2 linked regions of the Homo sapiens genome follow. The protein of the gene in region 1 interacts with the protein of each later gene in a pairwise test. Each region holds a gene or a part of one and is shown in the gene's direction. Other genes may lie near its edges. The genes, in order: SLC6A15 and SLC41A2.

Evidence for each region.
Region 2: the proteins of SLC6A15 (region 1) and SLC41A2 interact in binary tests that used the Homo sapiens proteins (3 or more experiments, as listed by UniProt).

Annotation. Positions count from the first base shown.
Region 1 is NC_000012.12:84,904,656-84,921,438, reverse strand, and holds the start of SLC6A15 (sodium-dependent neutral amino acid transporter B(0)AT2), read left to right. Parts: upstream 1-8,639; 5' UTR 8,640-8,916; intron 8,917-16,783.
Region 2 is NC_000012.12:104,948,233-104,955,881, reverse strand, and holds part of SLC41A2 (solute carrier family 41 member 2), read left to right. Parts: intron 1-892; exon of another isoform or gene 893-4,391; intron 4,392-7,649. UniProt on the Homo sapiens protein: Acts as a plasma-membrane magnesium transporter. Can also mediate the transport of other divalent metal cations in an order of Ba(2+) > Ni(2+) > Co(2+) > Fe(2+) > Mn(2+).

The DNA of each region.
Region 1 (16,783 bases):
TTTATTTTTGTGTTCCTCATGCAACAGAGACTAACATAACCATTTTATTAATTTACAATGTTGTCATTGTAATTATTGGACAATTCCCTGTGGAGGATGTTATAATGAGATTTTACTTACGTACCTTCCCTATAAAGTAAAGTTGGGGGCATCACGAAATCTTTTCCAGTGTTTCCAGCTCTCTGGGTGTTGTTCTTTGGCATGTGTTTTTCAGTAAAGATATACTGAGGTTGAGTAGGGAGGGCCACATGGTAGCATATGTGGGTCTGTGAAGAAGTATACATGGGTATTTATTTGATAGCAAGCAAACTGCCTTGCAATTAATAAACCCTAATAGCTTCTGGCTTAGTATTAGCATCTGTTAAGCTAAAGAGGCAACAGGGAATCAGCAAGGTTTAACTGTAGGTTGGGGGGAATTCTAAGCATAGACTTAGACTCTGCCTTAGCAGAGTCTTGTGTCCCAAACTTGGAATGGGAAGAGTGGTACCCCATAGAACCTGAAGGAATAATATGAGCAAAGACAGTGGACATCTTAGTGATTATCTCTGCAGATACATAACCCAATAATCAGATGATACCAACTCTTTTGCCTGGGACCTATAGGAAGTCCCAAAATCCTTGATATAAAAATATAGGAGTGAGGTGGGGGCACAGAGGATGCTTGGAGATTGCAAGGAGGCCCTAAGAATGAATGAGGTATACTTTTTTTTTTCTTTGCAGATAAATTGTATGTGAGTTCAGAGTTAGAAATTAAGTTAATTTATAGAAATAAGAGTTGCAGCTACAGTGGCTCCCCTTACCCACAGTTTTATCAGTTTTAAATTGCACTCCCTTCTGAGTAGTGTGATGAAATCTTGTTCTGTACCACACCATCCTGCCTAGGACATGAATCATTCCTTTGTCCAGATTCTTCATGCTGTAGACACTACCTGCCCATTAGTCACTTAGTATCAGCCTTGGTTATCAGATAGAATATCATGAGATGGCAATGCTTGTGTTCAATTCACCCTTATTTGACTTCATAATGGCCCCAAAGTGCAAGAGTAGTGACGCTAGCAATTTGGATATGCCAGAGGAAAGGAGTAAAGTGCTTTCTTTAAGTAAAATGTGAGGCTGTGAGTAGTGATGCAGGCCTGTAGTCCCAGCTAGCTATTCAGGAGACGGAGGCAGAATAATTGCTTGAGCCCAGGAGTTTGAGGCTACAGTGAGCTATAATTGAACCAAGGCACTCCAGCCTGGGCAACAGAATGAGATTCTGTCTCAGTAATTAAAAAATAAAAATAAAAATATGAAAGCTCTCAATACGAAAAGAAGAAACAATCGTATGCTGAGGTTGCTAAGATTTACATTAAGAATAATTCTTCTATCTGTGTCATTGTGAAAAAAAATAGACTTGTGCTGGTTTTGCCATAGCACTTCAAACTGCAAAAGTTACAGCCACAGTGCATAATAAGTGCTTAGATAAGATGGAAAAGGCATCAAATTTGTGGATAAAAGACCTTAAAAGAAACATGTTCCAACTGTTTGGCAATCCAGTTTGGTACTGTTCGTGATTTCAAGCATCCATGGAAAGTCTTAGAACATATTCTCCCAGGATAAAGGGAGACTACTGTACTGCTGAATGTGGTCTGATAATCCAAGGGCATTTACCTACTGAGGTTCTAGCATATGTCAAATTCAGATTTGGGAGGTGGGGGAGTAAATATTTACTACCCGCATAAAATTACGCATGCCAAATCCCTGTACACCTAGAGAATTCCAAATTCTCTAGGTCTAAAGCCAACTTCCAAATTATTAGACTAGTGACCAAATTATTAGACTAGTCCACCCCTATTATATTGCTTGTGGTGGGGAGGGGGGAAGGATGAGATACAGAAATAACACTGGGGGGTGGCCAGAGTTCACCATTACTCAGGGATGATGCTCTTCATTCATTTGAGTTCTCATGACTCACGATTCCACCAACAGCTGAGAAAGCCAGGCCCAAACATCACCATTTAATTATATGCTAGACCATCAAACTTTTTCTCAATGACTCAAACTCTTCAGTTCCTAGTATCCAAGGTAGCTATACTCCCTGTAGAATGTATTTTCATACATGAAGTGTAGGAGATATTTTATTTGTTCATGTTTTTGAGTGTTTAAAATTTTTTTTCCCTTTTGCTGTTTTTCTGTTAATAGTGCTTTCTTTCATTGGGAGAAGTTTATGCCACTCTGATCATATGGAAAAACGAACTTCATTTCTGAAGCCACCTTGGTTGGCTCAGGTGTAGGAAAGTGACCCAACATAGCCAAAGTCTTCCCTGGGAGGTATAGAAGTCAAAGAAGGAGGAGAAGGAGAATAAGGAGAAGGAGAAGAAGGAGAAGTAGATGGAGAAGGAAGGGAAGGGGAAGACAAAGAAGGAGGAAGAGGAGGAGGAGGAGGAAAAAGAAAAAGAAAGAAAACAAACCAACATCCCACATTTTTTTTTAATCTAAAATTTTTTTAAAAAAACTAAATCTAGGCCAGGCATGGTGGCTCATGCCTGTAATCCCAGCACTTTGGGAGCCTGAGGCGGGAGGATCACCTGAGATCAGGAGTTCGAAACCAGCCTGACCCACATGGTGAAACCCTTTCTCTACTGAAAATACAAAATTAGCCGGGTGTGGTGGCATATGCCCATAATCCCAGCTACTCAGGAGGCTGAGACAGGAGAATTGCTTGAAACCGGGGGGCGAAGGTTGCAGTGAGCTGAAATCGCGCCATTGCACTCCAGCCTGGGCAACAAGAGCAAAAATCCTTTTCAAAACAAACAAACAAATAAAAAACTAAATCCAGTTGGAATAGGATTATGCAATCATATGTGTCTTAAAGGTCTATGCCGCATATTTGAAGATTTGAAATCCACAATTAATAAGCTGGATTTAACAAATAAAACATACATACTCTGGAAAACAACATAGATAATGTAAATGAAAGTGAACAAGTACTAGGCCACAAAGAATGTCTCAACAAATCCAACAGAATTGATATCACAAATATTAAGTTTTATGACTTAAATGTAACTATAAGTAATAAACAGTAAAAAAGTTTAAAATATGCTCATAAATTAAGCAAATAAGAATTGAAATTATGGTTATTATTTTTAGGGCGGCCTCTTCAAGCCAGAATAGGTTCAGAGAGGCTCCTGAAATTATTTTAAATGAACACTTAAAGTATTATATAACCAAAATGTTTAGGTTGCAGCTAAAGCTATGCTTATAAAATAAATTATAACCTTGAAGCAATGTAGAAATTAAAATGTACTATATTTGTTCAAATTCAAAACCTAGGAAAAGACTGAACTCAAAGAAAGTAGGAGAAATATATAAATAACACAAGAAAAGAAATTTACAGAAAATAAAAAATTATAACACCAATAATATCAATAGTTGTTTCTTTGAAAAGACTCATAGATAATGTTTAGCATTTAACAGATTGAAAGAGATATGAAGAAAAGGTTGAAACAAAACCTATGGAGAAGTTCATATATCTATAAATGTAATCTAGGATTTAAAATTCAAAAGAAAATAGTACAAAAATTATTGAAGCACTTTTAAAAATTAGGTGAAATGAACACTTTAAAAGAAATGAATTGCCAACATTTACTCATTTACTCGAGAAGAACTAGTTAACTTGAATAGACCAATAGAAAAACTCAATAAATAATAAAACATATTGCTGGGTACTGTGGTTCACAACTGTAATCTTGGTATATTTAGAGGCCAAGATGGAAGGATTGCTTGAGCACAGGAGTTGAAGACCAACCTGGGCAACATGGTGAGACCCTGTCTCTAGAAAAATAAATATTAGGCCGGGTGCGGTGGCTCACACCTGTAATCCCAGCACTTTGGGAGGCCGAGGCAGGCAGATCATGAGGTCAGGAGTTTGAGACCAGTCTGGGCAATATAGTGAAACCCCGTCTCTACTGAAAATACAAAAAAATTAGTCAGGCATGGTGATGTGTAATCCCAGCTACTCGGGAGGCTGAGGCAGGAGAACTGCATGAACCCGGGAGGCGAAGGTTACAGTGAGCCGAGATCGCGTCACTGCACTCTAGCCTGGGTGACAGAACGAGACTCTGTCTCAAAAAATAATAATAATAAATAATAATAAATAAACATGAAAAAATTAACTGGGCATGGTGGCATGCACCTGTAGTCTCGGCTACCTGGGAAGCTGGGGTGGGAGGTTCACTTGAGCCTGAGAGGTTGAGGCTGCAGTGAGCTGTGACTCCAACACTGCATTCCAGTCTGGATGACAGAGCCAGGCCCTGTCTCAAAAGAAAAAAAAAAAAGCATAAATAAGAAATCTTTATCTTACCACTTTCCTACTTTCCTTGATTTCTCAGGTGAGTAAGAAACAATGTCTATATCATAAAAGGGTATTTGAGAGACTAGAAGTGTAAGCTTTGGATCTCATTTTACAGTGCTAGAATAACCTTATAAGGAGAATATAAATCACTTATCAAATACATTTATGTGTATAGATGAAAAACTCTATAAAAATATGAAAAAATTGGGTCCATCAATTTATATAAAGAAGAATAGTATCTCATAATCAAGTAGGATTTATTCCAGGGATGCAAGCATGGTTCAATAACAGAAAATCTATGAATATGAATTTTATAAAATAAATTAAATTGTAAAAACCATAAGCTTGTCTCTACGGAGTAAGACATATTTGCAATATCTGGGTCTTCTTTCTCTTCCTCAAACATATCAGTTAAATTCTTTTTTTAGGGTCTATTCACTGATCCTACAATCTTTTTAAACTGACTGAAAAGACCCTTTTCACTGACCTCTACCTGGAACTTACTCCTATCTCCTTATATCTACAAGGCTAACTCCTGCAAATCCTTCGTGTCCTTGCACCAGTAAAATCTCAATGAGACCTACCCTGACCACTCTATTTAAAATCTAACTCTACCCTCTTTCCTGGGACCCTCCTCAAAGTCAGGGGAACATAAACACAGGGGTCTTTTCACCATGTACAAGTTCATAGATTGAAATGTATTCAATGAGCAAGTATCACTTTTGTATTCAAATTATATTTTAGAAGTACGTATAAAAATCATGGAGCCTATAGAATCTGTATATACCAATGAGATTGTGCAGCAAATAAAAGGCACCTCATATACTTTATACAAAACAAATACCATTAAATATTTTGGTTTCGGATATTTAAGTAGCTATATAGACTAATGCTGAGCATAGTACCTGACACACATAAAATGTTTTAGAGACATAGTTTGCTATTATATTAAACATTATAATAAAAGGGCAACTTAAAAACTTAGTGGTTATAATCAGTTTACAGAGGTAGGGGGTGCATTTCTCTGTCAAAAAAATGACAGCTTGTGTTGGTATTTTTACTCGCCAGGGCCATTTAGGCTTTATCTTCAAAGTGCAGAAACAGTAAAATTCAATCATTTCCTACATTGTCTTGATTGCTTTACTATCTTAGTCAATTAGTTAAAAAATTGATTTGATTACTTTGACATTTGCCAATTCAGTTAACCCATCCTCTACCCACTGAGAAATCAGAGAACCTACTTTCCTTGCATCTACCTCTCAGTTCTTCATCAGTAGTATGAATAGAACAGAATATTCAGTGGATATTTTGGGCTTGTGCAGACTTTGTTTTCATAAAAATTTGGAGACCATATATCAAATGACATTTGGCATGGAGGACGTTAGAATAAAAAGTTTTATTAAAATGCAAAAAAAAAATCCTCACAATATACTCTACTGCCCATATAGCAATATAAGCAAATGAATTAATGTAATCTTAGGATGTGAATTGATTTCAATGTTTTTCTTTAGTATTGTAGTTTTAAAATCATCTTTTAGTAAATGTTTGAATTATTTTTCTGAACTCTAGTGCTACATCTTTGGAAGTTTTTACATAATATTGTTATTCTAAAGGATTTGGTTTAAGAAATAAGGTAGAAAGGCTTGGTGAGTCAGATTCCTTCTCTCCTCTAGTCAAAGAGAATACTCTTTTCCTTCATGTGATCTTTTATCAAATTTTAAAAATAATAAGTGTAACATTAATTGCTTAAAAGTAGGTATCAATTTCAGAAAGTGATTTAGATAGGGCAGGTTTTTATTTTTACAATATCTAACAGATGCCTTTTGACGGTATGACCTTGGACAATCAAAGCTTCAGTTTCTTTTCTGGCAATGTTTTGTAAAAACTAGACCTACATCACAGGCTTGGTGTAAGAATTAAGAAGTATATATTCATAAAATATAGAAATTATTCTGTACATTGCAAAGACACATAGTTAACATTAATCAATCCTTGTTAATATTATTAAATACAGTGTGGCTGGAAGCACTAGTCTCCCTTAACTTGTAGTTAATTCTTCCAAGTTCTGTTTTTTTCCTTTCTGTGTGCTGCCTCTTCCTCCCACACCAATCCCATGTTGGCCATTTTGCCCTATGGTGACAGAGAAAGAACTCTGTAATCATTACCCTAAAATATATTAGCAATTGAATTTTAAATCTTTGAAGACTCATTGTTGTTAAATTTTAAAAATGAATACATTTTACCTTTGGCTAGGGTTCCCAGACTCTCCTTTTGAGGTCTCTCCATTCTTCATCTATTTATTGTTTTCAAAGTTGCCTACCACTTGTGTTGAGATTCCACCCTTTCCTCCTGTTAAAATAGATAATTTGTTAAAGGGTTACAGGATAGTATAAAAGCACATGAAGTTTGAGGCCAGCATATCTGAATTTATTTCTCCATTCTGTCATTGAACAAGTTTTCTGACTTTTTGCAATTTTTTTTGAGTATCACCTCTCTCTAATCTCTAAATTAGGAAAAATCACCTCATTAATTAGTTGAGAGGATTAAATAAGATATTATTAAGCCCCAGGTACTTAGTGGGAAGCTTAAAACAATAGTTGCTTTCTCCTACTTCTCTTCATTGGCATTGAGACATAAATTAGTATCAGTCATTATGGAGGGCATCGCTCTACAAATATTTTGTGACCTATGCATATGTATTGGAATTAGGTATCAGACACTAGTGAAAAAGCGTGGGAGAGAAATAATTTTCGTACTTCTTGGTACTACCGTAAACGATTTCTGCCAGCATATGGATAACTTTGTTTCCCACAGATAATCCTAATCCTGATCATGGTGGACACAGCTCTCCTTATTTTCCTAAAATTTTCTCAGTTGTTATTGATAATGTTGGTACTGTATTTCAGTTTCTTTATATATCAACATTAAATATTTGCCTGTCACCAAAATGTGAAGTAAAAAGCAAAAAAAGTCCTATAAAAGGTTTATTTTGACTGTTTTTATTTTTTCACGTGGCGCATCTATCAAAGAGCATTTATTTACTCATGGCAGGGGAGGCGTATCAGGGAATCAAATCTAATTTAATTTCTTAACTTTTAATTTTTCAAAGTTGGGATTGGAAGAGAGGCTGAGAAAAAACTCTCTTGGCTGTTTTAAAAGCTAAGGATTAGTAGCAATGTTCTGACCTGAAATTTAGGTCTTGTGATTTCTTTCCAAGAGATTTTTCACTGCATGAAAAACCTGTTTGCAATGGCCTTTTTAATTTAATTCAATCTTAATTGGATACGAACCGTAAAAATCTAAGGGATTGTTAAAAGGCCTAAAAGTGCACAAAAGTAGTTTTTAAGAGTAATATTAATAATCTGGAAGTGAAAAATTAACTTTGCTAAATTACTGAACCTTTCTACCTAGCTTCTAGGTTCATTTTGTATTTCTTTCAAATTTTGAACGTTTCAAGGACGGAAAATTTCATCCTTAGAGCATACGCACTGTTTAGGGGACGGTTCAGCCATTTTCAAAAGGAGGCTAAGCTTTGTGTTCAGAGGTGTATATTTTAGGAATTCTCCACGTGGCTTAATTACGAGCATGCCTTGATTGTTAGCAGAGGTAAGTCAGGCTTCATCTTGTAATGAGACCCCTTGGAAAAAAGTCTGCTGCTGAGGCACCAACACAGGGTGGGTGAGGGCCAGCTTTCTAAAACGGCCTTTCATAACCTGGCGAGAATCACTGAGCGCTATGAGGCCACCGCCTGACGGAGAAGCCAATGCCCAGAGGCTTTTTCTTTCGCAAGAGATGTAAATGGCCGGCTTGGGGGAATAGGTAGGGAAAAGGGTTCTTTGGGTCACCCATTTTTTCTAGTCCCATTACTGACTCTTGGAGAATATTCAGATGGTGCCAGGTAGCACCATGCCTATTATTATTCTCACTGAGACAAAAGTCAGCGGCTGGTAACTGGTGTCCATTCTTTCGCTTGAGTGGGTTGGAGAAAGACGGCATGGCTGGAGGAATTTGTTTTGTTTTGCTTTGGAGCGGGCTTCCTCAGTTGCATCCTGCATCGGGCGGGCACAGCCCCGGGCTCTGGGAAGACGCCGCTCGGCAGCCGCAGTGGCCGCTGCATCAATGGGTTTTGGGGCAGGGAGGTGCGGAGCCCAGCCTGCGCTCCTGGCTACCCCTCCGCGCCCCGCCGCCGCCCACAGCCTACCCTTCTCCTCTGCAGCCGGTAGGCGGCCGTAACACGGGCGGGCCGAGCACGTGGGCGCCTCCGTCACACCCTCACACATACACACACGCGCGCGCGCACACACACATACGCATGTACACGCGCACCCGCACCCGCGCGCCTGTATCCCGTGCTGTTTCCCTGGCAGACACACAGGCGCTCACGAGTCTCTCCTTGCCAGCCTGCAGGGCGGCGACCCCCAAAACCCAGCTCCGGGTCCCAACCTAGGCAAGAAGCTGCTTCTCTGCCAACAGCTCCTCTTCGGCCTCCGTCACAGCCACCTGGACCCTACCCTTTCGCGACTGCTGCTGCTGCTGCCCGGACGTGGAAGCAGCAAGAGGCGCTTGGTCAAGACACACTGACGGTAATGGCAAGCGCCTACGCTAAGGGCACAACTGGGGGTGAGGTGGGGCTCGCCATTAGCCACCCAGGAGCCTGGGCACCAGCACCGGGAACGAATTGATGGATGGATGCCGGGAAGGACTCGCTGCGTCCTGGGGTGGGAGGAGGGAGGGCAGCTCAAAAGCCCTGGGAGGGAGAAGCTGGGCTGGGCGGGCAACCGTCTAACTCTGCATCTCTGTACAATCAGGGTGGGGGGCGACAGGCTGCACATGTAAGGGGAAGCACATGGGTTGAAACGTGCCGCCATCCTTTCTTCCCGTCGTGGAAATTGCCCACAGCATCCCCAGAGACCTACTCGTTTCCAAGCCAAGTCGGGGTTGGTTGAAGGGTGGGGTCCAACACGGGAAAGTCCAAGAGGAAAGTTGGGAGGGTTGGGGCAGAGAGAGACGCGAGGTGAATTGGAAGCTAAACCTCGTGCAGGTGGGCGATGGGGCGGGGAGAGCAGAGAGCTTTATTCCTCATTCGCTTCCGTTCGCTTTAGCAAAGGCAGAAGGCGACTACCGAGGACAGAGTGTTTTCACGTGACCACAGTTCCCCTTTGCTTGAGGTATCCTGTGATAAATGGCCCGAAAGGGGGCCTTTCGCCGTACGAAAGGCACGTGGCTGCTGGAGAAATCACGGCTCCTGTGTTTCTGCGCATCCTGGAATTTGAGAGTGTGGCGGTGAGGGTGGTGCTGCTGGGACTGTAAGAAGATGGGAAGCAGTTAGAAACCCAGATCGTTTCTACCTTTCTTTCACTAGGCTGGTCTGTGTGTGACTGGGAAGAAGACGGTATTGAGTACAGGGAAATCCTTGCACTCTAACGTAGCGCACCAACTGGATACATAAGAATGAATCAAGACGCCCGAGGCGTTCGGGAACAGGCATGACCCACCCAGTGGCACAGGCTGCGGGAACGGGAATTATTTTTCCTGAGCTGAGAAGCAGCCTTTGATGTGCGTTTTAGGAAGCAAAGCCCCCAGGCTCGCGCTCTCCAGCGTCCCGCTTTCCCTTTCCATCCTCCTCCCTAGCTGGGAAAGGCTGGAGTAAGACGGGGCGGGGTCCGGACTCCGGCGCAGTGACGTAAGCAGTGTTTGGGTGCTTATGCAAATAAGTCTGCGACGGTTTCTTCTGGTCTTGCCGTTTTCCCCTCCAGATCTTATAGGTAGACCCAATCTTAGTCTGCACCATCCTTGCGGTTCACTACTTAAGACGTATGGGAGAAATGAAGGATTTGCTTTATATGCTGCTTTGGGGCTCCTCATCGCCCATGCTGTAAAAGCTATTTTCTACCTGTCAATGCCTGATTGCTTTTCTGCTGTGCCAGCAACAAAGTGTTTGTTTTGAGGAATTATTATGTGCAGACACAGCCCCAACAAGCCCCTCACCCACCCAACCTCATTTCTGCAAGATCATTGCTGAAACACAGACCTATTTATGTCTTAGGCGCCCAGTACTGGGCTTGACTTGTACGTTCTTAATAAATACTTAATGATGGACTAAATCTTCTTTGAACAGTGTTAGGTTTTGAAGGGAAGGCGAGGGTTAAAGACACACACACACACACACACACACACGGAAAGAGGGCGGCTCAACAGCAAATTCAGGCTTTCTGTCCAGCATAAATCCTACAGAAGTGGAGGACCAGCCTAATGCCGGAGCCCGCTGCCGCTTACAGGCTGGGGCCATTTATAGGTACGGGCAGAAGGGGTCTGAGCAGTATGGCTTGCTGCTCCGCGGGATATTAATAAGATGCTTCCATGAAGAGGCGGTTCTGGCTCTTGTTCCGGCGCGATGTCGTTCTGTTGTTCAGGGTGTTCCTTGGACCTTTGTCCAGCAAGATATGATAGGGATGTCTCTTTAGTTAGGCCTTTGTCCAACTCGTGGTCAGTTGGTTAGACGGGATGTTTCTCACAGCTCGAACCCCTGTGAAATGTTTCGCTTTCACCAAGGTCTGCAAAATAGCAGGGAGCTTACAACATGGTGCAGTTTGGACTAACAAACAGTATGTATTTTTTTCTCTCATATTAAATTCAAGATATTTGACCATCAAAATCAGGCGATTTTATTTTTATGTGTTGTTGCCTTTTCTATGGAATCATCAATGATCCATGTGTATTTGTTGTGGTAAAACATATCCCAACAAATTTAAAATGGAATTTATTAACCATTTTTCTCTAAATAAAGCTTTCAGTTTGTGTTTTTTTTTAGGATGACAGGAATTAATAGGATTTTTAAAGAAAGATAATCTTTTACTGTTGATAAGCTTTTCTTTTTTCTGATTGCACATTATATAGTTGATTGAAAAATTATTTTATAATTCTAATATAGTTAACTCGAGATGTAGTATTTTAATCGAATTAAGAAAGTTATTTTTATATGTTTCTAGGAGATCAGTACTCTATCACTGAATAAATATGAAATAATGCAGAATCTTAAAACTGGATAACAGTTATGAGAGATGCCAATAATCAGATGAGATGCCTTCCTTGTCACCTACTGAAACATTTAAAATAAGTCAGAATAGTTACTAAACTCTAAAGTCCGTATTCATAGTTACTACCTTACCCAGTGATCATAGTTGAAATTGTAAATATGCTTCTCTTGTCATAAAATATAATTTGTATATGAATAGGTAAGATATTTGCATTCTTTTTAACTCTGGGATTATATCATCTAGGAAATTGAATCATTGACTTAGAATAGCAGACCCAAAAGAGAGCTTGGTGGCTATCAAAAGCTCCTAAAAACTTTTCTTTCACTTCTCAATGGACCTCTCACCTTGTGGAAGAGTATGTTAATTCTTTATTACTACATACATATGCATGATAGGATATATTAGTATATTCTTATGCAGCTGTGCAGAGTAGATTTTGAAATGGTTTCTCAGCAGATAGTATTAATAAAAATCTACAGGCATAGTTGGATGCATGAACAACATTCAAGGTTACATAGCAGGAATCATTAGATTTATTTCTACTTTGCTTATCATACCACTCTTCTGGCTGTCTTTACTAAACAATTTTTGATGTATTTATCTGCTTAAATATTAACTTTGACCAGTAATGATCATCTCTTTTTCTGTGAACAACAAGCCCTAAAAATAAACTGGGATATAGGGCAATTTCAAATGCAGAGTATCACTTGACACAGGGCAGAGCTGTAAGTTGTGTTCAGCCTTGAAGGTCACTTTATTTCCTTGTGATTAATGTGCTAAGGTATCTTTTCACATAAGATGAATTGACTTTTATTTTTAAATAGAATGCATACTTTGGGAACTTTTTCACCTATCAGATTGGCAAAGATCAAAGAGATTATTTGTTATACAGAAGACAGTAGAAGAAAGCGGGCACTCTCATGCATTGCTGGTGGTAGTGCAAATGGACACAATTTTTATCAAGGGCTATTTGGTAATATTTATCAAAATTATAAAAGCTCATACCTTTTGATCAAGCTGTTCCAGTTCTAGGAATTTATTCTACAGATATGGAGATGCAAGATATACAAAATAATTTGTTGGAACATTGTAGTAGCAAATTATCAGTGATGATCTAAATATATGGTATACCATACCAAGGAATATCATACAGTAGTTTTTTAAATGAAGCTATTACATTGAGATCAAGAGTTTTGAAGAATTTATTAGAGTGAAAAACTAAGAGGTAGAATTATGCACATAGTAATAGTTGTGTAAAAAGAAGCAGATTGGGGGCTGGTGGGGAGAAAACACATATTAGCTTGAATATATATAGAGTGTTTAAGTGTGTATACACACATATATATATGCTTGAATATACAGAAAATATTTATTGAAGATTTTGGTTACTTATTGGGAGGTACAGATGGTACAGTATATTCTAGGGAGAAAGGGTAGGAAGATATATATATATATATATATATATATGTTTCTTTACTCTTTGCCCTTTAATATCTTATTACAGTATTTTGTATTCAAAATATAAATATATAAAATATTTTAAAGTAAAGACAGAGGCAAATAAACACCTTTGGTAGAGTTTTATTCATTCATCACATGCCATGGAATTAGTAAGGTACAAAAGTCAATGAGTATTTTGACGACCCCCTGATTTTTGTTGTTGTTTCTGAATTTACAAGAAAGCTTCCTCTTTCAAGAGTTTTAGAAATAAAATTATATTGGAGAAGCATATTTAGTACTTGATTCAATAAAGTTATTTAATTATACTAGCAAAAAAGGCATAATTTTAGGGTATTAAAAAAAGTCTTAATTTTGAGATGGGTGTTGAGTCCCATGTAGTTGGTAAGAAATAACACAGAGAGTTCTTGTGAGCTCTTGACAAATTTCCTGCAAATATAACATTTTGTAATAACTATATTAAACCTTCCTAATCAGAATATTGACATTGATACAGTTAAGTTACAAAAGAGTTCCATTACATAAGGATTAACTGTGTTGGCCTTTTATAACCACAACCACTTCACTCCAGTCCCCAGGCTCTCCTTAACTCCTGGCAATCTCTACTCTGTTCTCCATATTTATTTTTTGGTCATTGCAAGAATATTATATAAATGTAATCATACAGTATTCAATGTATTTGAATTGATGTTTTTTCACTCAGCATAATTTTCTGTAGATTCATCTAAGTCATGTATATTGGTAGTTTTTGCTAAATAGTAGTTAATGGTATGGATGTGCCAGAATTTATAACTATTTACCCATTGAATGACATCTGGATTATTTCTAGTTTAGGGTTAATGTAAATAAAACTGCTATGGACATTCCTGCATAGGCTTTTCTGGAACATAAATTTTCATTTATCTGGGATAAATGAGAACACTTGCTCGGTTATGTGGTAGCAGTGTGTTTAGTTTTTAAATGAACAGTCGAACTTTTCCAGAGTGTTTGTACAATTTTACATTCTCACCAGTAATGAATAAATGATCCATTTTCTCTGCATCCTTGCCAGAATTTGGTTGTCACTATATTTTGGCCATTCTGATAGGAATATAGCAACATCTCATAGTATTTTATATTTGCATTTACCTAATGGCTAATAATATCGAGCCTCAGTTCTTGTGCTTCTTTGTCATTCATATATAATATTCATTGAAATATCTCTACCTGTTTTCTTATTTTATTTATAATGGTCGAGTTTTTTTTTGTTTTTTGTTTTTTTTCGAGACGGAGTCTCCCTCTGTGGCCCAGGCTGGAGTTCAGTGGCGCGATCTCAGCTCACTGCAAGCTCTGCCTCCCTGGTTCACACCATTCTCCTGCCTCAGCCTCCCAAGTAGCTTGGACTACAGGTACCCGCCACCACGCCCGGCTAATTTTTGTATTTTTAGTATAGACAGGGTTTCACCGTGTTAGCCAGGATGGTCTCAATCTCCTGACCTCATGATCCACCCGTCTGGGCCTCCCAAAGTGCTGGGATTACAGGCGTGAGCCACCGCGCCTGGCAACGGTCGAGTTTTAAGAGTTCTTTATATATCCTAAACACCAGTCATTTGTGACCTTCAAATATATTCTCCCATTTTTAAGCTTTTTTTTTTCCATCCTCTTAATAGATTCTTTCTCATAGCAAAAGTTTCAAATTTTGGGGCCTAGTTTATCAATTTTTGTGTTTCTGAATCCTGCTTTTGTCATGTCTAAGAGCTCTTTGGTTAACCCTAGATCTCAAAGATTTAATCTGATGACTTGTTTCTTAAAGTTTTATATTTTCCACTTAAGTTTGTAATTCATTTTGAATTAATTTTTGTATAAGATATGAGATTTAGGTTCAGGGTTATACTTTTGCCTAGGGATGTCCAATTATTTCCCGAACAATTTGTTGAAAGAGCTATTTTTTTCTCCATTGAAATTGCTTTGGTACTTTTATCAAAAATTAGTTAGGCATATTGTGTGCACTTCTTTCTGGGTAGCCTCTTCTGTTACATTCATTTTTGTCTATCCTTTCACCAACCTCACATAGACTTCATTACTGTAGCTATATAATAAGTCACAAAATTCGATAGAATCATTCCTCCCACTTCATTCTTCTGTTTAAAATTGTTGTAGCTCCTCTAATTTTTTGCCTGTTCATATAAATTTTGAAATAATCTTCTTTGTAGAAAAATGTCACTGATATTTTGATAGGAATTCATTTAACCATATATCAATTTAGGGAAATTTGACATCTTTCTTATGTTGAGTTTTCTAATCCATGAACATGGCATGTCTTCCCATACATTTAGATCTTCTTTCATTTACTTTATCAGCACTTTGTAGTTTTCAGCAAAAATGTACCATCCAGGTTTTGTTACATTTTCGTGTAATTATGTCAGTTTAATGATTGTAAATGCTATTGCATTTTTAATTTCTGTGTTCACTTGTTTATTGGTAACATATGGAACTGTAAATGATTTGTGTATGTTTACCGTGTATTCTGTGACTTTTTTGGACTATTACTCTAGAAGGTATTTTTGTAGATTCATTAGAATTTATAATATAGACAATCAAAATATCTGCAAAAAAATTGAATACTGTATTATTACATTCATATAACATTCTTGAAATGACCAAAAAATAAGTATGGAGAACAGATTAGAGGTTGCCAGGAGTTAAGGAGAGCCTGGGGACTGGAGCACAGTGGTTGTAGTTAAAAAAGGCCAACACAGGGAATCCTTATGTGATGGAAATCTTTTGTAACTTGGCTGTTCTTCTTTCTTGATTTATGTGACTTATACATAAATTTGTAACTTGACTTTTCTTGTTTCTTGATTTATGTGACTTATACAGTTAGGCTTCTGTGTCCTTAGGTTGTGCATCCACAGATTCAACCAAATGCAGATGTGAATATAGTACTTGTGGGATGCAGGACCCACAGATGAATGTGGGACTTGAGCATCTGAGAATTTTGGTATTTGTGGGAGGTCCTTCAACAATGTCCCTTGGACACTAAGGGCTGACTGTATTTTCTTTTTCTTGCCTTATGCCACTACTTAGAACTTCCAATACTATGTTGAATAAGAGTGTGAGAGTGGACGTTTTTATCTTGCTTCTTATCCTGAAGGAAAAGCATTTAGTCTTTCACCAGTAAATATAATATCAACTGTAAATTTTTTGTAGATGCTGTTGATCAAGTTGAGAAAGTTTCCTTCTGTTCCTAATTTTTGACATTTTTGATCATAAATGGACATTGAATTTTGTCTTTCCTGCATCAGTAGATATAGTCATGTGATTTTTCCTTTAGCCTGTCATTATTGTATATCACATATTGATTTTTGAATATTGAACCAACCTTGAATACTTAGAATAAACCCTACTTGATCATGGAATATAATTCTTTTTATACATCACTGAATTCTGTTTTCTAACACTGTGTAAAGGAATTTTGTGTCTATATTCATTAGGAATATTGATCTGTAGTTTTTTATTTTTTACTATGATCTTTGCCTGGTTTTGGTACCTGAGTAATACTGCTTTCATAAAATGAAATACAAATTATTCTATCATCTTCTATTGCCTGAAGAGATTGTGTAGAATTGATGTTAATTCTTCTTTAAATGTTTGGTGGAATTTTCCAGTGAGATTTCTTTTGTGACAGTTTTAAAATTATGCATTCAACTTATTTATTAGTTATATAGCTATTAAATGTTCTATTTCTTATTGGCTAAGTTGTGGTAGTTTGTGTTTTTTAAGGAACTGATTGGTTACACCTCAGTTACTAAATTTATGTGTGTAGAGTTTTTGTTAGTATTCTCTCATGGTCATTTTGATGTCTGCAGATTTTGCAATGATAATTCCTGTTTCACTTACGATATCCAAGATGCCTTAAGCATGAAATTGACTTTATGCAGCTTTACATATGATTGACTAAATGTGGCTTTGAAAG
Region 2 (7,649 bases), about 20 Mb from region 1:
TTTTTGATGGCACTAAAGTTAAGAGCCACTTACAGCTAAATGAATGCTGCTGTGCTTATTTCATGGTTAATTTCCGAGCGCACACAAATTCAGCATCAGGTCTTTCATGGCCAAAAAAAAAAAAACCACTAAAAAGACCTGATGTTACCTCCCAGGAATTCAAACTCAATTTTCCACTGATCTAATATGATTGTTGTTAAAGAAAAAGATTATTCGATGATACTTGTTAAAATGTGGTAAAAAAAAGTCTATTCAGGACCATTGTGATAGGTAAAGGGACCATGGAATGGGATTTTGCAGTTTGGGAGGAAGACTAGGCTCAATTCTGAATACGGTGTGGGCAAATGGGAATTTATAGCCAAGGAGCAGTGTCATGGTCAGTGGACAGAAAAGTACTGAGAGGAAACACCGGGGGTAGTGGATATTCAGACCAAACCAACCTAACAGGATTCTTGCTGAAGACAGGCCAGAGTGATCAGACACCACCTGGGGGACAGTGGAAGCTGAGGAACCTAATCAGGTTGTGAGGGTAATCAGGTAGCGAGGGTAATCAGAAAGCGAGGGCCAGCTGGGTGCAGTGGTTCATGCTTGTAATCCCAGCACTTTGGGAGGCTGAGGCGGGCAGATCACCTGAGGTTGGGAGTTCGAGACCAGACTGGCCAACATGGTGAAACCCTGTCTCTCCTAAAAATACAAAAATTAGCCTGGTGTGCTGGCGGGCACCTGTAATCCCAGCTTCTCAGAAGGCTGAGGCAGGAGAATTGCTTGAACCCAGGAGGTGGTGGAAGTTGCAGTGAACCGAGATCACGCCACTGCACAGAGCAAAACTTCGTCTTAACTCAAAAAAAAAAAAAAAAAAAAAAAAGCAAGGGCCAAGAGTCAGGGGCTGTTGCTAAACTCACTTGACGAGGTTCTTTGATAAAACTGCATTTTACAAGGAAGTGCACAAATGGGCCTAGAAGGTTCAGGGGCCTGAGTAAAATTTCGTCAAGAAAAGAATCTTTCTCATTGTTGGAAAGTACACTTCCCAATTTCCAAAACTTTATAGAAAATACAAGTAAAGGTTTCCAAATGGAAATAATAGATAAGCAACTGATAAAAAGCATGTGAAGCATAGCCTAACTCTGCTTCAACCTATACATTACAAAATGATGGATATATGAATTAACCCTTTTATGCCACTGCCTTTATTTAGAAGAATGAGGCTGGTAATTTCGGGTTTATAACCCAAAATGTGTTTTTACTTTGTTTTAACTAATGAAATTATTATCAAACGTATTGAAAATATAAACTATCCAACCTAATATTGATTGTTACCAACTTACCCAATGGATATACAAATATCCTGCAGCTACAGATGTTTTCTCTGCCCGCTGGGGTTTTTAGTGGCGCTTATTGGGAAGGACTGAAAGTAGAGGGCAGTGACAATTGGGAATCGCTATGGAGATATCCCTGAGAAGTGATGGTCACAGCTGACCTGTCTCCTTTATGGTAGATGAGGGTAGGGACACTTTTTCTTCTCTCTGAACGTACTGCAGTTAGATTTATTTAGCTTAAAAATAACAAATACAGAAATATTTAGATGGAAATGACTAGAACTGTCAGTTATTCTATTTTAATGTGAATGGATTTAATCAGATTGCTTTCTTCTTGGTTAGCTACACTAAGGAAGTGGGAGTTTTGACTTGAGGAGGGATAGTAGATGTAAGTATTATGAGATCGTGGAACATTTTGGAATATTGGGCAAAGTTTGCCCTACTTCTAAAAGTGAGGATGTTAAAAAATGGAAAGCTTTAGATAGCATGAGGGATCTGAAAGATGAGAAAAGAAAAGCAAGAATGAAACAATTTGGAAGGAAAGATTGTAGGATATAAAGACAGATTCGACTTATTTAGACATTTTTGCCCAAGAAAAATGTCTAAATAGGAAAAGTGGAAACCTTTTCCTTCATTTGATCCCTCTTTCCTTTTGCCCCACCTTGCTGCTCCATGCTAACTGTTCTCCTAGGACCCAGAAATCAGACTGGGATTACTGTTGTTCATGTTGAAGCTTTCAAGTGTGCTAGTTACACCCCTTCTCTCTCCATATTCTAGTCAAATTGAGATCAGACTCAAGCCAGATAAGAATTTAAATACTATTAAAATAATAGTGTAATTTTCATTTCCGGTAAAGCTGGATTGGAGAACTGAGCTTAGACCCATGCTTACTGTTCTTTCTTAATTTACCTACCCAGATGAAACTGTTGCACCAGGAAATGGAAGGGAAAGTCCTGTCCTAAGGAGCTTATCTTATAGCAGTTAGAATGGAAAGGAAAACTTTCTCTCCTTGAGGGCACAGCAAGTCCAAGAAAGCCAGTGAGAGCTCACGGGTGGAGCCTGTCTGAACAGTTGACCTTTATACCTATCCTAGCAATTAGATAAGTCACTTTCCTGTGGGAGGAATTAGTGATGGGGGTGGAGAGAAAGAAAAGTGTTCCTTTAATCTTGTTTTCTCCTACTTAGAGGAGTGAAAGTTCTGTTGTCATTGCAGAGAGAAGTAAACAGCCATCCTCTCATAGTTAAGTATGTTATGGGAAATAAATAGTGTTTTGTAGGCTAGCCTAGGAACTAATTCACCATTTATAAAAATGAACTGACTGTATATTTTCCTTGGAAATAACTAAATCTCTTAGACACTTTTGAGTGATTATTTTATTGTGTAGTTAAATATATAGATTATTCAAGTCTATTTCCTTGTTTTACCAGTACTGGTTAAATATTTATGGAATGTCTAATACGTGACAGGCACTGGGCTAGGCTTTGGGATTCAGTGGTGAACAAGAATGGGTCCTTGCTCTAAGAGTTACAACCTAGAAAAACAGTTAGTACAAGTACCATTACGATAAAGCGTAATAAGCATTGGTTAAGTGTAGAGTGCTTTGGAACCACAGAAGAAGGAGAACTTATCTATGAGGGCCAGGGACATGGATGTTAAAGAGCTGAGATCTTAAGCTGAATAGGAAGTAGCTAGGTAAAAGGGAAGAGTGAGGTTGAGCAGAAGTGTTTTGAGCAAAAAGAACATGTGGAAAGGCCAAGAGGTGTGAGAATGTGGTACACTAAAGTGACATTTTTTTTCTTTAACTGCAGGCACCTACTAGTAGATTGTGAAAGCAAATTAGTGAGTTGTAATCCACATGTTTTTTAAAAGGAATACAATAGAAAATGAGGGTGTGCCACTCATAGATACTTACTGGATTGTAGGGGTAAGTAGGGGTGTTTATGCAGGATTTAGTTAACCTTATTAAAGAAGTTGGATTTATCTTAGAGGAAATGACAAATCATTGAAAAGTTCTAATCGGGGCCTGATTAGAGATCTTTAGAAAAAGGTCTCTTTGGGTACCTGGTCTTTCTTAACTCGGATGTAAACTTCAAATTCATTGGCCCAGCATTACAGGTATTCCAAAACCTGGTTCCAATCTATTTCTTGTAAAAAATCTTCCCACTATTTTTGTTATTGGAATTTCCCAGTTCATAAAGATTCGTTCGCCTAAGTACCTTTGCACCAAGACCAAAAGGTCTGTGAGAACAGATTTCACTTCTGTCCTTTAACATTGAGTCTCTGGCAACTAGTATAGTGCCTGGCTCACAATAGAGACTAAGCAAATCTTCGTTGATAGAGTCTAAATACCTTTAATATTAGGAACATTATGCAGTAGTAGACATGACGTTGCTGTTTCTGGTAATGTCTGCTTTGGGACAAAGAAAAAGTTTTCATTCAAATTTTTTTTCTCAGTTGAAATCATGTTAATGATAGAACTGCATACATTTATTAAAAAGATAATTTAACAGAGGGCATTCTTACATTGAAACAGTAGTAGAGATAATAAAAAGAACAATAAACATTGTGGTTTTGATGTTTTCCCAGGGAGTACAGTGACACAGATTGCTCACAGGAGCAGCCAATCCAGAAATCATTTCTGTTTTGTTTGAACTTAGAGGCATTCTCTGAGCACTCACCCAAAGGCAGTGTTAGAAAAATGGCTAAGGACAAAAGGAATAAATTATTAGGTTGGTGCAAAAGTAAGTGCAGTTTTTGCAATTAAAAGTAATGACAAAAACTGCAATTACTTTTGCACCAACCTAAATGGATGAAAATATATCAATCATATGAGCTTAATGAAGAATCAACAGAAAATAGATTTTGTTCTTACAAATGAAAATAGAACATCCATATACCCTAAAGAATTTACAAATAAGAATTTAATGATGTCAGTTTGTTGCCAGAGCATGATTCTACTGTCACAGTATTATGACTTCACAGAATTAAATTGTGAAACCCAACCATAAAGGAAAAATTCTTTCAGTGTTTGGTTCCGATCAGTGGTAAAAGAAGTTACGAACAGTTCATAAAAGGTAAGGAGATTTCAGTTCTGATTCAAATTTATCTTACTAAATTTTTGATTTGTGAAAAATTTTGCTCGTTAGTTTTTAAGTTAGGGTTTATGTATCTTAAACTGGAATGCCAAAATCAAATTTTGCTAATATGAGATGGCTTTTAAAAAGCACTCAGAGAATTTTATCTTTTTATATTCCACAGAGTCTTAATTTAAGTAGTACATTGTAGAACTAAATGGAAACTGTTAACTTGTATAAGTTTATCCTAAGGAAATAACTCTAAATATGGGAAAGTATTAGGCACAGAGATATTCATTTTCATTGCAATGTAATTTAGCCAAATAATGTCCTGCTATAGGGAAATTATTTACTAAAATATGGGAATCCATTTGAAAAAGTTTAACCATTAAAAATACTTTTTTAGAGCAATAGTTTCTTCCTGTTAATTACTTTTTAAATTAAAAAGTAAAAAGTACTCAAACAAAAGTTCAAATAATATAAAAATATGTAGAATCAAAAAAAGTGAAAATGATATTTCAATCTTGCTTTCTATTACTGCTTACCCCTCCCCCAGCCACCTCAATCTAGGCATACCCAGTTCCTTAGAGGTAAATGCTTTGAGCACTTTGTTATTAGCCTTGCAGATCTTTTTCTAATCCAGTGGTTTTTAAACCGAGAAGGAGTTTCAGGGTCTTCTCAAGTTGGGTAATATGGGGACCCAGTGGGTGGAAACCAGGGTGCTTCAATGGGTACTGCTTTGCTTTTACAAAACTGTTTTATATATTGGGATTTCACATAGGGTTTAATTTAAATAAAGGGTTCCTCTGCATTAAAAATAAAGGCTTAGCCAGCCACAGTTCCTGTAGTCCCAGCTATCTCAGGAGACTGAGGTGGTAGGGTGGCTTCAGTTCAGGAGTTCGTGACCAGCCTGGGAAAAGTAGTGAGACTGTGTTAGTCCGTTCTCACAGTGCTATAAAGAAATACCCAAGACTGGCTGATTTATAAAGGAAAGAGGTTTAATTGACTCACAGTTCCACATGGGGAGGCCTCAGGAAACTTACAGTCATGGCGGAAGGCGAAGGGGAAGCAAAGACCTTCTTCACATGGCAACAGGAGAGAGAGAAGTGTGAGGAGTGAAGGCAGAACAGTCCCTTATAAAACCATCAGATCTCATGAGAATTCACTCAAAATCATGAGAACAGCGTGGGGGAATCCAACCCCATGATCCAACCACCTCCTACCAGGTCTCTTCCTAGACACGTGGAGATTATGGGGATTACAATTCAAGATCAGATTTGGGTGGGGACACAACCAGAGCATATCAGAGACCCTGTCTCAAAATTAAAATAAATGAATAAATGGAAGTTATTTATTCTTCCTCATTTAGAACTGTCCTCATTTAGAAAACAAAGTCCTAAGCCCCATAGTCAGGCATTCCATGTCTTCCCCAAGTTTCTCATTTTGCTGCTTGGTCATATTGAATAGTCTACTCATACCTTCCCATTTTCCCATCAGTTTTCTGCCTGATTACCATTCACCTTGTTGAAAGGCACTTTTCCTTCTCTCCCCTCCCCACCTCCCCTCAATTTCTCTAAATCTTACCTGTTCTTAAAGGTTCAGTGCACCAGCCAGGCACAGTGGCTCACACCTGTAATCCCAGTACTTTGGGAGGCTGAGGCAGGCGGATCACCTGAGGTCGGGAGTTCGAGGCCAGCCTGACCAACGTGGAGAAACCTCGTCCTTACTAAAAATACAATATTAGCCGGGCGTGGTGGCACATGCCTGTAATCCCAGCTACTCAGGAGGCTGAGGCAGGAGAATTGCTTGAACCCAGGAGGCAGAGGTTGTGGTGAGCTGAGATCGTGCCATTGCACTCCAGCCTGGGCAACAAGAGCGAAACTCCGTCTAAAAAAAGAAAAAGTTTAGCTCACCATCATTTTGTTCATTCCTCCTTTCAACTTGTAGTTGGTGAACACTTACATTTTGTCTAATACTGTGTGGATAATTTGCAGAATTTGGTAGCAAAAGCTACAAAATTAAAGGATGATCTTTATGTAAATCTGTATGTAAATCTTTGTGTAAAGGATGATCTTAATGTAAATAAGTGAAATAATGTGTTATAAAGTAAGAGCATTCTGGGAGCAGGTACTAAAGTTATAAGTGTTCCCTTATTTCTTCCACACTGTTTTTTATATTGGTACTTATAAACAAGGCAATTTATGATATGATTACTTTTCTGGATCTTCAGAAAATATTTGTTCATTTATTTTACTTATTTATTTATTTATTTGAGACGGAGTTTCGCTTTTGTTACCCAGGCTGGAGTGCAATGGTGTGATCTTGGCTCACCGCAACCTCTGCCTCCTGGGTTCAAGTGATTCTCCTGCCTCAGCCTCCCAAGTAGCTGGGATTACAGGCATGCACCACCACCATGCCCCACTAATTTTGTATTTTTAGTAGAGATGGGGTTTTTCCATGTTGATCAGGCTGGTCTCGAACTCCTGACCTCAGGTGATCCACCTACCTCGGCCTCCCAAAGTGCTGATTACAGGCATGAGCCACCACGCCCAGCCGTATTTGTTCATTTATTGATTGAGTAACAGAAGATAGTGCAGAGATAGTTCACCTATGGATCAGAGGTGAAACCTGTGAAGGAGCTGTTTCCATTCTTGAGCAATAAACTGTGTTCAAAAATAACTTGAATCCAGTTTACTGGGTTCTAGTGTTTGGCATGAAAGGAGCTGAGAGGGAACACTGATGATACACCTTGGTTCTATCATCCTTGTGCCCATGGCTGTGTACACTGGCGCCAGAGGATTATAACACAGAGAAATGTCTACAGGGGCTTCCTTATCATTAACTGGTTAGTCAGAAAGTCATGAACTCAAGTCCTGTGTCTTTATCTTACTAACGTTGTAACTTTGGGCATATTATTTAACCTCTCTGAGATGCAGTTTTCTAAACTGTAAAGGATGAACATACTTATCTTCAAGGTTTTTTTTACAAAAGATAAAATGAGGTCAGTATATATAAGAGAAAGCAATTCTTTTTGCTTTAAATAGTATTGATGTAGATAGAATGGGTGATCTCCTTTCCTTTAGGTTTAAGTTTTTATATATTTTTTAGGACTTACTGATTAGAGTTTAGTTCTTTGGAGCAGTGCTTTTTAAGTCTGAGAGTGGCATTTTTATAAGCTATTCATATTCCTGGTAAGTATAAATGATGTAGGAAGCAAATTAGGCCAAAGGACAACTTCCTGGGGAAATAAACATTTTT